4 separate regions of the Homo sapiens genome follow, and regions 2, 3 and 4 are each reported to be linked to region 1. The links are microRNA targets in miRTarBase. Many come from high-throughput screens and were not tested one by one. Region 1 holds a microRNA gene; each other region holds the end of a gene's coding sequence.
Evidence for each region. Region 1 holds the annotated microRNA hsa-miR-6739-5p (UGGGAAAGAGAAAGAACAAGUA, at 1,501-1,522, opposite strand). A microRNA usually pairs through its seed, bases 2 to 8, with sites in the 3' UTR of a target mRNA and lowers its output. Matches are read on the target gene's strand: a 7mer-m8 pairs with bases 2 to 8, a 7mer-A1 pairs with bases 2 to 7 and ends in A, and an 8mer does both.

Region 1 (4,150 bases):
ATGTGGTCCAAGAGATATGAACATTAAAAATAAAAGTTTTCTTCACAGTTCTTCTGATTATAAAAGTAATATAAACTTGTTGAAACAAACAAACAAACAAAATATTTTATATATATAACAGAGAATGAAAGTTCTTTGTACTCTAATCTCCCCCAGAGAGAATCAATGTTGGTAAGTATGCCTGATAGGTACTGCTGTCTACCTAAAACACTCTGGAAAGTAATGGGCTTATTTTACCCAAAGTACTTTCACATTCATACCAAACTCCTCTCACAGCTTGCAGCTGCAAACATTTCCATAAAATCACAACACAAAGTGGATAATTCTCCAATGAAATCAAGTTTCACTAAGGTCAGAAGCTAAACAGGCAGTGACCACAGGTACAAACTCAGAAAAACCCTTAAAATAACATTCATGCCTTAAGCAGCTTAGGGCTCTCTCTTCTCAGACATTTAAAATGGTGTTAGAGCTTTCTGAAAAAGCTATACTTAGTTTGCCTCTTAAGATGATACTTCTAATTATTTTAGAGCCAAAGATCTGCTTCACCTAGATTGAAGCAGAAAAAGATGGGACGGTGTTTATGGTCATAACATTAACCATTTAATTAAAACAGGCAGTTCTTGAATGCTTTCTAATGACATATAACACACGGCATCTCAAAAGATACTCCTCTGCCTCAAAAGATAAGACAGGGCAGGCACATGGAAAATAAATTTTGTGTTGGTAGTTATAGGATTCAGTTGAGATGTTTAAGTTTGAGCCTAAGATATTCCTTAAAACAACAATGGTCCTTCTAGTCTGCGTAGGAATATAAATAAATGACTTTTGATCCATTAGTAACACTAGCCTTAAAAAAGATAGGTAAAACTGGGAAAAAATAAGCAGTGTTTCTAGGTCACATTATCCCAGATTTGGTTTCTAATATAATCAACCAACAAAATGATGTGGACTCTAATCCTGCTTCTATCATTCATCAATTGTGCAACCCTGTGCAAAACATTTTTCTCTCCAAACCTCAGGTTCTTCACCATTGAGAGAAAGGGAGTTGCCTAGATGATTCCAGAACTGGAGCGAATTTAAAGAGGAAGAGGAGCAGAAAGGAACAGGACATCTTCTGGACTCACAAAAGCCATGTCTCTAGCATGGTTTCTTTCCCTGTCCTTCCAACATTCACCCTGAAGGATATCATTAGCAGGGATTTCCAAGCAACATAATACACTGGAAAACTGTGATTTGTTATATCTAACCTGAGCAACTTTCCCTTAATTATCACGCTAGGGTAGCATACTCACCCCCAGATGGCTCTCACTGCAGAAATTCGAACTGATGGGGGCTGTGTCTCGTGAAGACCACTAACTGTTGCCTGTAGGAACTGCTGGATCAGTTCAGGGGACATAGCAACAGTGAACCGACTGGCAGCCCAAAGTGCCCGGCCCAAGAGGAAAGGAGACACTGGGAGAAAGACAGAACAATTAGGGGCTGGAAAATGAAAATTCCTTTTACTTGTTCTTTCTCTTTCCCACATTCATTCCTCAATTTTTTTTTTTTGAGATGGAGTCTCACTCTGTCACCCAGGATGGAGTGCGATGGCGTGATCTCGGCTCACTGCAACCTCCGTCCCCCGGGTTCAAGCAACTGTCCTGCCTCAGCCTCCTGAGTAGTTGGGATCACAGGCGCCTGCCACCATGCCCGGCTAATTTTTTGTATTTTTAGTAGAGATGGCGTTTTGCCATGTTGGCCAGGCTGGTCTCAAACTCTGGACCTCAAGTGATCTGTCTGCCTCGGCCTCCCAAAGTGCTGGGATTACAGGCATGAGCCACCGCATCCGGCCCTCCATTCCTCAATTTTTTAGAAGTAAATAGATGCTACATAATATGTACAACTCATTTGAGAGAAAAAGCATAACCTTGTATGATGAAAGCAAATGTGTGACCTGTGGTACAAAATCAATTTCCCAGTTTTCCCTTGTCTCTTCTGAGCAAAGTAGATCTTGAATATTATTAGACTAAAAAGACTTTACCACCCCAGTCCTCACCCCCAGCTCTCATTATTCCTTACCTGTACTACTAGTTAATCTTTTTTTTTTTTTTTTTGAGATGAAGTTTCATTCTTGTTGCCCAGGCTGGAGTGCAACAGTGCGATCTCGGCTCACCACAACCTCCACCTCCCTGGTTCAAGTGATTCTCCTGCCTCAGCCTCCCCAGTAGCTGGGATTACAGGCATGCACCACCACGCCCAGCTAATTTTGTATTTTTAGTAGAGATGGGCTTTCTCCATGTTGGTCAGGCTGGTCTCAAACTCCTGACCTTAGGTGATCTGCCTGCCTTGGCCTCCAAAAGTGCTGGGATTACAGGTGTGAGCCATGGTACCCGCCCACTTAATCTTCTAAGTTGCCATCTCCATTGCTAGTTTATTCCCACTTTTGGACCACTCTTTTTTTTTGAGATGGAGTCTTGCTCTGTTGCCCAGGCTGGAGTGTAGTGGCACAATCTCAGCTCACTGTAACCGCTGCTTCCCGGGTTCGAGCGATTCTCCTGCCTCAGCCTCCCGAGCAGCTGGGATTACAGGTGCGTACCACCACGCCTGGCTAATTTTTGTATTTTTAGTAGAGAGGGGGTTTCACCATGTTGGCCAGGCTGGTCTTGAACTCCTGAACTCAAGCAATCCACTCGGCTTGGCCTCCCAAAGTGCTGAGATTACAGGCATGAGCCACCGCGTGCAGCCTTGGACCACTCTTAAAACATAAATTATAGCTCTGATCATGTCATTCTTCTATTTAAAATCTGTCAATTAATTCCATAGTCCACCAAATAAAGATTACCTTAGTCATCACGTTATTCAAGGCTCCCTAAGATCAGTGACTCTAGCATTACCTATGATTTCCCTTTATGGTTTCCAAACTCAAGTACACATCCCTCCTTAGCAACTTACATCTTACTCTCCCAGCTCTCTGCCTTGTTCATATTGCAAGCCAACATATTCACCTCCTTGCATTACCTAATTCATCTCTTAGGCTGAAGCAATTCTAACTATCTCTATGCCACAGTAATTCTGTCTTTAGTGTTCTTACATGTTATATATTTCGTTTGATAGTCTAGCCACTAATGTAAGGATTACTACCCTTGTTTACTATAAGCTGCTGAGGAGAGACTATTCTTATTCAGCTTGTCACAGGGCTTAACTTGTTTACTCACACAATAAACATCTTGTTGACGGAAAACACTGAACAGAACCTAATAAACTGTGCCAGTCAAATTACGCAATACAGATGCTCCTCTGCTTATGATGGGGTTACTTCCTGATAAACACATCGTAAGTTGAAAATACTGTAAGTTAAAAATGCATTTAAATTTAATACTGAACATCACAGCTTAGCCGGGCCTACCTTAAACATGCTCAGAACACTTACATTAGCGTAAAGTTGGGCAAACTCACGTAACACAAAGCCTATTTTATAATAAAGTGTTGAATATCTCATATAATTTATTGAATACTATACTGTAAGTGAAAACAGAATGGTTGTAAGGGTACTTGAAGTATAATTTCTACTAAATGCATATTGCTTTGGCATCACTGTAAAGATGAAAAATCATAAGTCCAACCACTGTAAGTGAGAAACTGATAATGTACAGAAGCAGTTCCCAAAGGATGGTCCAGAAATTCCCTAAAGTTAAAACTATTTTCACAGTAATACAGAAACATTATTTTTTTCACTTTCATTCCTTCTTTTTTTTGAGACAGAGTCTCGCTCTGTTGCCCAGGCTGGAGCGCACTGGCACAATCTCGGCTCACTGCAACCTCCGCCTCCTGGGTTCAAGCAATTCCTCTACCTCAGCCTCCTGAGTAGCTGGGATTACAGACGCGTGCCACCACGCCCAGCTAATTTTTGTATTTTTAGTAGAGATGGGGTTAGGCCATGTTAGCCAGGCTGGTCTCGAACTCCTGACCTCATGATCCGCCCACCTCAGCCTCCCAAAGTGCTGGGGTTACAGGCATAAGCCACCATGCCCGGCCTCACTTTCATTCTTTCACAAGTATACAGTGGAGTTTTCCAGAGGTTATATGGTATGTGATATCATGGCTCTGACAGCCAGGGGAAAACATGTTTCCATTTCTTTTATTTTAAAAACAACTCAGTTTTAATCTTTAG
Region 2 (4,000 bases), not on the chromosome of region 1:
AAAAGGCTGTAATTTATGTCAGCAGGGTGGAGGAAAGAGGAAAAGCAATTTACCCAAGCTGAGCAGACCTGCATCTTATCCCCCATTTCACCCTACCCGTTCCCTGCACAAAAATAAATAAATAAATAAATAAATAAATATAAAACAGAAGAGAAATGGCGCCAGGACATTCTTAACTTTTCTTGGATTATGAATCTATGCCACAATTACTATAGGCTTTAATTGCTCTTGACTGCAAGGCTATGTTCCTTTTGCCTTAGAACAGATAAGGAGGCTGTGGCACGTAAACATTCGGTGAATCTTAACATTAATATGCCAGTAGCATAGAAATATGCTATTTTTGAAAGCCCTTTGAATTGTGCACATGATTTTCCCTCTCCAGTAATAAATTGAGGGAAAAAATATGGATTGCTTAGGTAATGTAGTGATTATACAGCTTGTTATATAGATCAGGTTTACAGATCATCTCTCCATTCTTGACCTCTTAAGGTACAATTTAAAGCTGCGATTTAAGTAGAAATTATGAAAAGATGGAAGCACAGATAGATCTGTAAGCTGCCCACACTCTCTTTTCCTAATTTTTGAAGGCAAATAATGAACATGGTAACCCGGACGTGCCATACAGGTTAAAACCATGCCAGAGGGGCACATGCAGTCGAGACAAGCACAAAAACAGATGATCAGTTTAACCGATTTTGAAAGGCGGGCCCCTGAAAATTCAGAAATGACTATGTGTGGACTTTTTAAAGCCAACTCTGAAATGATTCCAAGGATCCTATAGAATAGTGAGTGCAATTAAAGACATTCAGTGTTATGTTCATTTTGACTCTTTATTCCTCGGAATGAAGACTGTGAGCTAAAATGTCTGTAACAATGTAGGATGTTTGTAAAAATATTGTTTCTCATGTGAGCTTCCAAGAGGGTCAGAGTGTCTGATTATAAAATCTCTGAAACTAAACTGAAAATGCCAGCATCTATACATATGTACTACATATTACATACATCTTTAGATGTATATTTATGTATTTTATGTTTTATATATTAAATACGCATATGCAAGATAACACATTTTAGTCGACACCATTGAAAACAGTTTTAACCAAGAATATTAGAACCAATGAAGCAGAGAAATCAAAAGGGTGGATGGAACTGCCAAAGGATGAAATTCTTGTGCTATACTCTCATGCTCTCATCTAGAGAATGTGAATATGAGAAAACATGGGTCATTCGTTTTAACATGTTAAGACCGTGCAGTCTGTCCTTCATGTCCATGGCAATAGAGGGTGAAGAACAGCTGGAGAACAAACAAGACCCCAATCCCCTCAGTTGGGTATGATCTAATGGTTCTCACCTAATCAAGAACAATAGAACTAGAGATAAAAAGGAGCTGCAAGATTTTAAAAGTTAACCAGCATTAGTAAAAGATAACTGTCATGCACATTTAAAGATAAGGTTTACATAACCTCATAACCTCCGAACTGTAACTAAGCTCATAGTCATCAAAAGTTAATTCCTAGGAAGAATTTGATTATAACAGTCTGTTCCATTATAAACACACTGTTTTTTAGCCAATTCCAAGGAGATTAGAGGTAGGTTTCACCAATCATGCATGGCAGGATCAGAGGGGATGCAAAGTCCTGGAAACTGACCTAAAATACTGCCAGTAAAATAGTGGGTAGTTGTGGGTGCCCTGCTCTTATGAACATCTGCTGAACCCTTCCTTGGTCTGATTCTAACCCAGGGTACAGAAGCCCTGACACTCTGGTAAGTGTTCAATCTGAGCAGCCTAATTTGACTTCATTCTGTTTGGGCGTCAGTCCAACTGGCAGATGTTCTTATAGAAGCTGATCTCCGACACTTTCCCTTTCTAATTTTCTGGCACCGTTGCCTCTGTTGCATGGGCTATTATCTCTGAAACTTTATCTCGGGTTATCCAGGTTTTGCTTGTTTTGTAGGCTTTAGTTTTCCCTTAAATCTTTCTGCCCCAAAGAAGTTCATTTGAAAAATACTAAATCACTGGTAACACCTTTAGTGCAAATATGACTTATCAAATAACTTGCCTGCAATTTTCCAGCCATTCATTACCTTTCCCCCACCCCCTCTAAAATATATAACTTCAGAAACAAAAATGCAAACACAAGGTCATCATTGTAAGCGCTATACAAATGCACCATTTTCTCTTACAGGTTGGACTTTATAGAATGAAATGCCAGAGATTTGATATTTATTATCTGAAATAGGTTTAACATTTGGAGAAATGTGTTCAAACACACAACCTTGGAAAGAAAAGCAAGCTGATAGGTCAGAGAACAGAGGGTGGGCAGAAAACACGATGTGCATAATTTTGCTGCGTGTTGGGCAAAAAGTTAGAAAACTGGGTTCTTTGGAGAATAAAGAGCTCTCAGATGAGGTAAAGGTAAAACACAAATAAATTTCCAACCCTTGATGAGGGCCACGAGATATCAATTTTAAATATATATGACCACAATATCAATAATGAAGAAATCTTACGTTTTATTGAATACTTTGGCCAGATCAGCCCCTTTGAAGGGATCACTAATTTAGGAAAGAAGAACAACAAACCATCATTCACTTTCCTGCAGGTTCATCGTTTTCCTAATTATTTCTATGGATCCTGCTTTATTCTTTCTGTAAATTAAGGGGCAGGAGGAGAGTTTCTATAATAGATCAGCAATGTCTGGTTCTTATCCAAATATTCCACCTAATAAGGATGTAAATTCTCATGGATTGGACAATCACTCTGCAACATTCCTGAGAATTGAATAATATAATAATCTTGAAAGTCAGCAGAGTGGATTATCCACTTTTTTTTTCTGGACTTGAACTTGTGAACTCAACAGTAGCACTGCAAAAAAGCAAACGTGCTAAGCACTTTGCCAGAGTAACCTTCCATGTAGACTTTTCATCTTAAATACACACAACTGAAAACAACTACAATTTTTGGAAAATTATGTACAAACCCGATACTTCTTTTGATTACATATAAATACAAATTAGCTATTTTTTTCCTAAAAAGTGGTTATAATAGTAAATAAATACAAAATAAATCTGACCATTATACTTCATGTGCTGGGGTTGAACCCATATAAAATGTACAACTAAATACATTTTAAATCTTTAAGGAATAATTCTCTGATTAAAATATTTGTTTTCCCAACTTCTTTTCGTAGATATAAATATATTTTCAAAATAGCTGTTTTTTTTTCCATTCCATTCCATAAATAAAGTCTTCATTGGGAAATATTAAAGTGTCAACTGGGGTGGGGTTTTTTTGTTTGTTTGTTTTTTTCTTTTTTCTAAAATATATATATATATATATATTTATGTATTTAATTTTGCTGTACTAGCGACACCCACAACCCTCCACAACCATGTCCTGATAGTTCTTTAATACAACCTTTTCATTCTCGTCAAGGTACAGCATCGAGATAGCACTGAGTTCTGTCGGGACACAGCATGCCTTAGGAATCTTAGAGTTAACAGAGTTGACCAACGTCTGAACAATGGCATGATTAGTGGAGTTCAGATGATCAGCCAGAGGAAAAGGGCATTCTCCGTGGCAGTAAAAGGCGTGATACCCCGGGGGAGCCACAATCCAGTCATTCCACCCCACGTCACTGAAGTCCACGTACAAAGGGTGTCTCTTACAGCTGGACTTAAGGCGTTTCCGCTGTTTGTGTTTGGCTTGACGTTTTTCTCTTTTGTGGAGAGGATGCCCTTTTCCATCATGGCCAAAAGTTACTAGCAATGGCCTTATCTGTGACCAGCTGTGTTCATCTTGGTGCAAAGACCTGCTTATCCTAACATGTCTCTTGGAGACACCTTGTTTCTCCTCCAAGTGGGCCACTTCCACCACGAATCCATGGTTGGCGTGTCCCTGTGCAGTCCACCGCATCACAGCGGGGGTGACATCAAAACTTTCCCACCTGCTTGCATTCTGATTCACCAACCTGGTGTCCAAAAGTCTGGTCACGGGGAA
Region 3 (4,000 bases), not on the chromosome of region 1:
AAAGTCATGGGATGTGTACTAAAGTGGAAGAGCTGAGAGTCTCATCTGGTCACTGTCAAGACATTTTATTGTTATAATGTCCTATCTGGTTTTTGGAAACTCTTAGAAACCCCACTTTATAAACTTAAATTTCACAAGTTAGTCTCTTAGCTCTCCTGTTTACTTATAACATGTATTTTTCCATTTTAGATACAGACAGAAGCTGCTCAGTTGCTTACAAGTTTCAGTGAGAAGAATTGAGAACTTTTCAGAGAAGATTTATGAAATAGCTAATAAACATTGCCTTTTCTTTTAATTCTAAACTTAATATATGAACTATAACTGTTCTACGGCTTTTTAAATGTTGTGACCATTTAACCGTGTAAATATAAAATATTCTAGGCTTCTTCACAAATAATAGGGTAAAATAAATAATCGCCATAAGAGTGGTAGAAATAAATCTCCATGGCTCAGGCAAAGAGATTATTTTGCATCCTGGATACCAGCAATGCAAAATGGTATGAGATTTCTAAGGATTGATCACATTGGGATGGGAGATCAAGCAAAGAAATATTTGTAGAGGAGGGGAAATGGATCTATAGGGGATATACAGGGGGATGGATTTTCAAATTGGATTGATTCTAAGTTGAAATCTTGAAGAGAAGGTGTGGTGACAGTGGTTAGGATGTTGTGGGTTCCTGACATAAAGTAGTTAAATGATATATCTTGGAGCTAACCTGTGTAAGTAAAGAACTAAGTAAGGAGATGACTAAAAATGGAGTAGTTTCCTTTTTTATTTTTTTGAGACAGAGTCTCACTTTGTTTCCCAGGCTGGTGTGCAGTGGCACAATCTCGGCCCACTGCAGCCTCCGCCTCCCGGGTTCAAGTGATTCTCCTGCCTTAGCCTCCTGAGTGGCTGGGATTACAGGGTTGTACCACCACACTCGGCTAACTTTTGTATTTTTGGTAGAGATGGGGTTTTGCCATGTTGGCTAGGCTGGTCTCAAACTCCTGGCCTCAAGTGATCTGCCCGCCTTGGCCTCCCAAATTGCTGGGATTACAGGCGTGAGCCACCGCACCTGGCCAGTTTACTTTAAATGTGGTGTAGTCTCATGGTAAACTGAATTTGTCATCAGATGCAAAGTTCTATTCCCTAATGGAATGGAAGGAACACAAAACTTAAGAGTGAAATGGAATACTAAGATGTTTTTAAATAGGCAGGACTATGCTACTCACTTGAGGCTGGAGTGCCACCACTGCAAAATCTTTTTAAGTTTTGTAAAAAGGAGCATCTTGAATCCACTTAGATAAAGACAGACTGTGTGTGTAGGTGGATTTTTCCCAAAGGATTTGGGAATTGTAATGTTACAATGAACTGTATGGATATGTTTGTCATGTACATTTTCAAACAAAAAGGAAAACTGAAAGTAGTGATCTTTGTATACCCATCTCTTAGATTCAGTGATTTTGCTATATAGGTTGTGTATCCCTTATCTGAAATACTTGGGACTAGTAGAAGCATCTTGGATTTGGGATGTTTTTCCAAATTTTGGAATACCTGCATACACACAATAAGATATCTTGGAGATGGGACCCAAGTTTAAACACAAATTCACTTGTTTCATATATACCTTATGCACATAGCTTGAAGGTAACTTTATATAACATTATTTTTAATAATTTTGTGCATTGAGACCAAGTTTGCATACCTTGAACCATCAGAAAGCAAAGGTGTCATTATCTCAGCCACTCATGTGGGTAATTTGTGGTTGGTTGATGTCACCATCATTCCTGACTGAATGTATATGCTACCAATAAGCAGTTATTTTCTTATACTTATTCATGCATAAGTACTTAACAGTAAAAAATATGACATAACTCGCACAGGAACAAGGATGGCAAAAAAAAAAATATGACACACCACTGATACAGTGAAAAAATAATGTGGTCAGGGTAGCTAGGCAACAGTAGCATCACCAGAAACCTGTATCAGCTGTTAAACGGCAACAACAATGGCAGGCTTTCAGTTTCCCACTTAATGATGCTGTATTTTAAAAGGTTATTGTATACTGTAATTTTATTTTTGTAGGTGAAGAGAAACAGAAGCAGCTGAAGGGCCAGGAAGTGGGTCTTTCTAGGGATGTGGCATTCTGCTGGATGGCTTTTTAAAATGGGTTTTTTCCTTTAGGGAGACCGAATAAACTGTGTTGTGCACCTGCATTTTGACTGTGACCTGTTATGTGAGGTCAGATGTGGAATTTTCTACCTGTAGCATCATTTTGGTGCTCAGAAAGTTTTGAATTATGGAGCACGAATTTCAGGTTTCAGATTTTTGGAAATAGGGATGTTCAACCTGTATTTATACATGTGTGTTTGTGTGTGTATAGACACATACATTTCTAAACCTTTTGAAACTGATTGCAAGCATCATAATAGTTCACCCCAAATGTGTCAGCATGCATTTTCTCAGAATAAAGACATCTTCCTAAACAAACACAAAACCATTATCACAACTGGAGAAGTTAACAGTTCTCTAACATCATCTAATATCTACCCATATTCAAATTTTCTCAAATGTCCCCAAGATGTCTCATGCTTTCTAAAATCAGGATCCAAAGATTATACATTGCATTTGATTTGTTGCTAATCTTTCCATCCACAACAGTTCCCCATCTTTTTCTTCTTGCAACATTGACTTTTTGAATAGGCCAGTCCGGTTGTCATAGATTCTCTCGCATTCCAGATTGGTCTAATTGACCACACTTTGAGAACCGCTGTTCCAACTTATTTCCAGGACTCAAATTAGTTCTATTAGATCTTTGCCTGACTTTCACATTTATCACTTACTGATTTTTCTTTTAGCCTTTTTGTTTCATTTTCTTGGCTCTTTTCATTTATATCTTCCATATCCCTTATTTTACATTTGGTTGTATCTCTTCTTCCTTAGATACTTTATAATTGCCTTCACATCTGATATGTGTTTGTCTTTTTCTCCGAATTTTTTTCCTGATTTTAGCCAGTCATTCACATCTGCATTTTGTTTGTCCAGTTCTGAGTTTTTAAGTTGCTATTTCAGATTTTTTAAATATCTAATAATTTAATTCATATTAGCATATTGTGTTAAAGTTTACTCTCCTTTTTCTCATTTTCAATTTCTCTTTAGAGTGACTTTATTTTTTTTCCCTAGGGATGTAATTTTATGTTGAGTTACCAGCAATACTAGGTCATCAAATGGGAAGAAAGGGTCTGGGTTAGTTCAAGAATATTTTCTGCTTAGTTGTTTGTTTTTTGTGAGATCAGGTATCATTCAATAATAAAGCTTTTTATGGAGGTCTTACCTCCTGATTCCTTATTAGAACTTTAAAAAATATTTTTACTTTCAAAAAATCATAGATTCACAAATTGAAAAAAAAAAAAAAAAGATCCTGTGTACCTTTCTCTCAGCCTATCCCAGTGCTAACATCTCATATAACCTGTAGTACAATAGCAAAACCTGGAAACTGACATTGGTACAGACCACAGACCTTATATTTAAATTTTACCACTTTTAAATGCTCTTGTGTGTATAGTTGTATGCAATTCTATCACATGTAGATTTTTGGTAACTGCCACCATAATCAAGATACAGACCTGTTCCGTCATCACAAAGATCCCCAGTGCTGTCCCTTTACAGTCACACCCATCTACCTCCTCCTCTCCCCCACCCATCCCTAACTCTGACAGCACTAATCTGTTCTCCATAATTTTGTTATTTCAACAATGTTATACAAATGGAATCATACAGTGAGACCCTGTGATACTTTTTTTCACTCAACATAATTCCCTTGAGACCTAAGTTCTATCAATAGTTTGTTTCTTTTTACAGTTGACTAGTATTTCATTTTATGGGCATACCATATCAACCATATGCTGAGGGGCATTTAGGTTATTCCTGATTTTTAGCTATTACAAATAAAGCTGCTATGAGCATTATATGCAGGTTTTTATGTCTACATAGATTTTATCTCTCTGGGATACATGC
Region 4 (4,000 bases), not on the chromosome of region 1:
GAATCATGAGGAAGAAAATCAATTAAAGATGAAGCAGGGGGGTGGGGACTCCAGGCAAGGGACAGAGCCTGAGCTAAGGGGTAAAGACAGGATTGAGCAGGATGATGAACCTTTTTGGAAATAGACAATGAGTTCCCAGAAGTAGTGGGAGATAAGTTTCAGTGAGTAGAATGGTGATTTGTAGAAAGCCTTTAAAAATAGACAGTGAAATTATGACTCAGTGGAACAGTAGGGAGCCATTGCAGGTTCTTGAGGCAGAGAAGGACCGTAATAATAATAACAACAACAGCAGCAACGTTATAACAACTCTCTATAGAGTATGGATCCCAGGTTGCTGGGGGTCACTGCTTGGTGCAGTTTTTTCCCCAACTACACATTTGGGTCTAGAACGACCTCTATTCTGACCACCTGCTCCTATCTTCCCATTTATCCTCCAGGAGGCTGCCAGCTGGGGATCTCTGCCAAGGGAGAGCGCTTAAAACACTGGTACGAGTGTCTGAAAAATAAAGACAAGAAGATAGAGCGCTGGCACCAGCTACAGAATGAGAACCACGTGTCAAGTGATTAGGCTAGTGCCCAGGTCCCCATCTCCATGTCCCGGGTCCCCCCCAGCCTGCTCTAGCTGCCCACCGCACCCTGATCTCTCTTCTCTATGCCTACCTCCCCCCATACCCTGCTGATCTCCCTGAGCCTGCCTTTGAGCCCCCGTCACGTTGGGCACTGCTGCCAAAGACTCCCTCCTCCCTGATGCTGGGATGTGGGCTCTGAATACAGCCCCTCTCTCATCCCTGGGATGGAGCAATGGGGATGGGGTTGGGGAGACGTTTACAAAGAGGTTGATCATTTAATAACCTCTCAGTTTGGGTAAATTACAAAGGTTCTTCATCATTTAGGACTGTTTTTAGACCCTCCTAGCCTTGAACACACACATGTACACACACACACACACACACACACACACACCCTTTCATTCCCTGTGTTGTGTCTCTGTATATCCCCAGTTGTCAGCAGACCCGGACAATGCTGTGAGAGAAGCATTGGGGCACAAATAGAGCCTCCGGGCTCCCACTGCCCCCTGAGATGTACACCCTGATTGCCAGGAAAACAGACTGCTGTGTTCAGTAACACACCCTCCCTGCTCCAAGTGCACCAGGATGCAAATGCACAGAATTCACCAGGGGCTTGGACGCTCTCCTCTTTCCGAATGTCACCTGTGTGCTTCCTAGCAAAACAAAAACAAACGACAACAACAAAAAACCCTTCCTCTGTCACCTTTTCTCCTCCTCCCTCTTCTTTCCCTTCCATGATAGTAGATTCTCTCTTTCTCAGCCTCTCCCCTCTCCTTTCTCTCCCTGCCTTTCTTCCCTTTGCCTTTCTCTCTCTCTAAAGCAGTAACACCGCAAAAACAACAGCAAAAAAAGTGTATGTTAACCTAGCCTCACCCCCTTGCTCTCACCAGCCTGACCAGGAAACTGAGAAACTGGCCCAAACCTGAGATTCCACTTGGGCCCACGCTTCTTAACTGACCCACTCCTCCCGTTGGCAGAACCAGACATTCCCAGGGCTTGGGCCAATGGCTGGCACTGCCCTGAGTGCATGGCAGCATCCCTCAAGCTGTGTAGATGCCCCATAGAGGACTCTCTCATCCGTGGGCTCCCCGGGTGGGCACGGAGGCATTTAGAAGACCAGGGCCATGGGTCTGAGGAAGCCTCAGCCAAAGCCTCCAGCCTTTCTCCTTTCTCCGCTCTTAGGTAAATGAACAAGCTACCCTCCTCCCCAATGCCCTTGACTCTGTTTCATTGACTCTTTTGCATCCCATCTCTCACTCAGAACCCCCTCCAGTCTCTCTGTCTCTCTTTGTCTGTCTCTCTGTCTCCTGCACTCTCGTTACTAAGCTTCCTGGGAGAATCAAATAATATCATGGCTATGGAACAGTAGAGAGAGACAGGCCTGATGCCAAAGGCTTTGGGCTCATCATCAATCTTTCACTTTCTTCCTATAAAAAAAATTATTTTATAAAGGAGGAAAAGGCAATGTGGGCAAACATTACAAATTTGAGGTTGAAGTCAGGCAATCTTCAATGCCCTGTGAGAAAGGTTCGATTTTCCCAATTTTGATGAAGTCTTCCCTCATGAAAATCACTCCCAGTCATCCCAAACCCCTGACATTCTCTACAGAAGCATCAGACAGATACTCAAACTCTCACTTTCCCCAAATCACATCTCTTAACTTTTCAACGCCCTCCACCCTCAGCTCCCTGCACAATTCATGGGAGGACTCATTTCTTGCCTTGAATAACCATTTTCTAAACATCGAGCTCTTCACCTTCCCCAAGGTGGCCAACAGCTTCCTGGCTGCCATCTTTCCTTTTGACCTTATCTTTCCCCATTAGTCCCTGGTGGCACCTACTCTCAGCCCACCTCCCTCACCACAGTTTCCCCTTAGGAGACAGCATGCTGGCTGTGTCGCCCAAGCCTGATGCTGGTGTAGGCGCTGGAATCAGCATGCAGCAAGCTCACAGTGCCCCTAGTCTGGGTGCCCGCTGTCCCCGACAAATGTAACCACCTCCCTGCCTAGAATACACACACGTCCTCCGGTGCATGCACAACCACCCAGCATCTTTCTTTGTGATGATGTAGCCAAAAATAAAGTAGGAGCATCCAAGAAAACGAGTGGTCTGCAGTTTTCCTTTCTGGTTTCTGCGAAGTCCTCCTCCCCACCAGGACATATGCTATTCTGATAGTCAGTACTTAATGAGCATCTACTATGTTCCAGGCACTGGCGACAGATGTGTTCTCTGCCCACGAGGAGTTTGCTTTATGGTGGATTTTATCTTGGGCAGGTGGGCCTAAGGTAACTTGGCTGACTCCAAACCCTTCTAGAAGAATACTTTTTGCTGGTGCCTACCAAACAGGAGGGCAACATCCTCATCCTCCTCCTGCTGCTACAAGACCTGGGAAACGTCCCAGGTGGTTGCAGAATCAGAAATTGCCAAAGCTAAAAGAGAACATACAATTGAGCCACAACCTAGTTCAATCAACTCACTTTTTAGACAGATGAAGAAACCAAGGTCCAGAGAAGAAAATGCCATGTCCAGTGTTAAACAAAGGCAATACCAGGAAAGGAGTTCGATCGTTGGACTCCCAGAATCCAGTGTTCTTCACACACTGATCGATGAGCATGGACCATCAAATGCCTCCCTTGCATTGTAGCACCTTCCAACCTACAATGATTCTCTCATTGGAGATTCTCGATAGTCCTGAAGGTGAACTGAGTCAGCAACTGACTCTCCAGAAAAAAAAAATCTTTTTTTTTTTTTTTTTTATTATGGAGTCTCCCTCTGTCCCTCAGGCTGGAGTACAGTGGCACAATCTCTGCTCACTGCAACCTCCACCTCCCGGGTTCAAGTGATTCTCCTGCCTCAGCCTCCCGAGTAGCTGGGACTACAGGTGCTTGCCGCCACACCCGGCTAATTTTTATATTTTTAGTAGAGGCAGGGTTTCGCCATGTTGGTCAGGCTGGTCTCAAACTCCTGACCTCAGGTGATCCACTTGCCTTGGCTACTCAAAGTTTTGGGATTACAGGTGTGAGCCACTACACCCGGCCTCTAGAATTCTTAATCACACTATAATCCATCCCCAAAGTGCTTAAGCAATTTATCAGTAATGGTTACTTCAAGAAGGAGCCATCAATTCTGTCCCACAGATAATTCTCTTTTCTTTGAGACCATTTCCTGTTTGTGCCCTCAAAAGCAAAAGCTGGCATGTTAGTCTCACTTGGGAGATTTCTTTCCCCACAGATTCTGCTAAACCCTGAGGATAAGGTGTATAGTTGAAAATATTTTCTGGCCGGGCACAGCAGCTCATGCTTATAATCCCAGCACTTTGGGAGGCCGAGGTGGGTGAATCACCTGAGGTCAAGAGTTCGAGACCAGTCTGGCCAACAGGGTGAAACCCTGTCTCTACTAAAAATACAAAAATTAGCCAGGTGTGGTGGCGTG

Region 2: the mRNA of BMP2 is a reported target of hsa-miR-6739-5p. Seed matches in the 3' UTR shown: 7mer-A1 at 3,256-3,262.
Region 3: miRTarBase lists RMDN1 as a target of hsa-miR-6739-5p. Seed matches in the 3' UTR shown: 7mer-A1 at 802-808, 7mer-A1 at 1,317-1,323 and 7mer-A1 at 2,007-2,013.
Region 4: the mRNA of RPH3A is a reported target of hsa-miR-6739-5p. Seed matches in the 3' UTR shown: 7mer-m8 at 1,293-1,299, 7mer-A1 at 2,104-2,110, 7mer-m8 at 2,206-2,212 and 7mer-m8 at 2,380-2,386.

The regions. Positions count from the first base shown.
Region 1 is chr1:201,860,750-201,864,899 of GRCh38, reverse strand. It overlaps MIR6739 (microRNA 6739), which reads right to left and starts at 1,527; the gene lies at 1,453-1,527. IPO9 (importin 9) reads right to left here. Exons shown (of 24, transcript NM_018085.5): 14 at 1,293-1,452.
Region 2 is chr20:6,778,454-6,782,453 of GRCh38, reverse strand. BMP2 (bone morphogenetic protein 2) reads right to left here. Exons shown (of 3, transcript NM_001200.4): 3 at 2,208-4,000. The coding sequence ends at 3,365. Among named protein-coding and RNA genes, the nearest start is that of BMP2, 13 kb to the right of the region's middle.
Region 3 is chr8:86,470,548-86,474,547 of GRCh38, reverse strand. RMDN1 (regulator of microtubule dynamics 1) reads left to right here. Exons shown (of 10, transcript NM_016033.3): 10 at 190-2,199. The coding sequence ends at 240. Among named protein-coding and RNA genes, the nearest start is that of RMDN1, 36 kb to the left of the region's middle.
Region 4 is chr12:112,896,213-112,900,212 of GRCh38, forward strand. It overlaps RPH3A (rabphilin 3A), which reads left to right. Exons shown (of 22, transcript NM_001143854.2): 22 at 438-2,669. The coding sequence ends at 568. Among named protein-coding and RNA genes, the nearest start is that of OAS1, 8.7 kb to the right of the region's middle.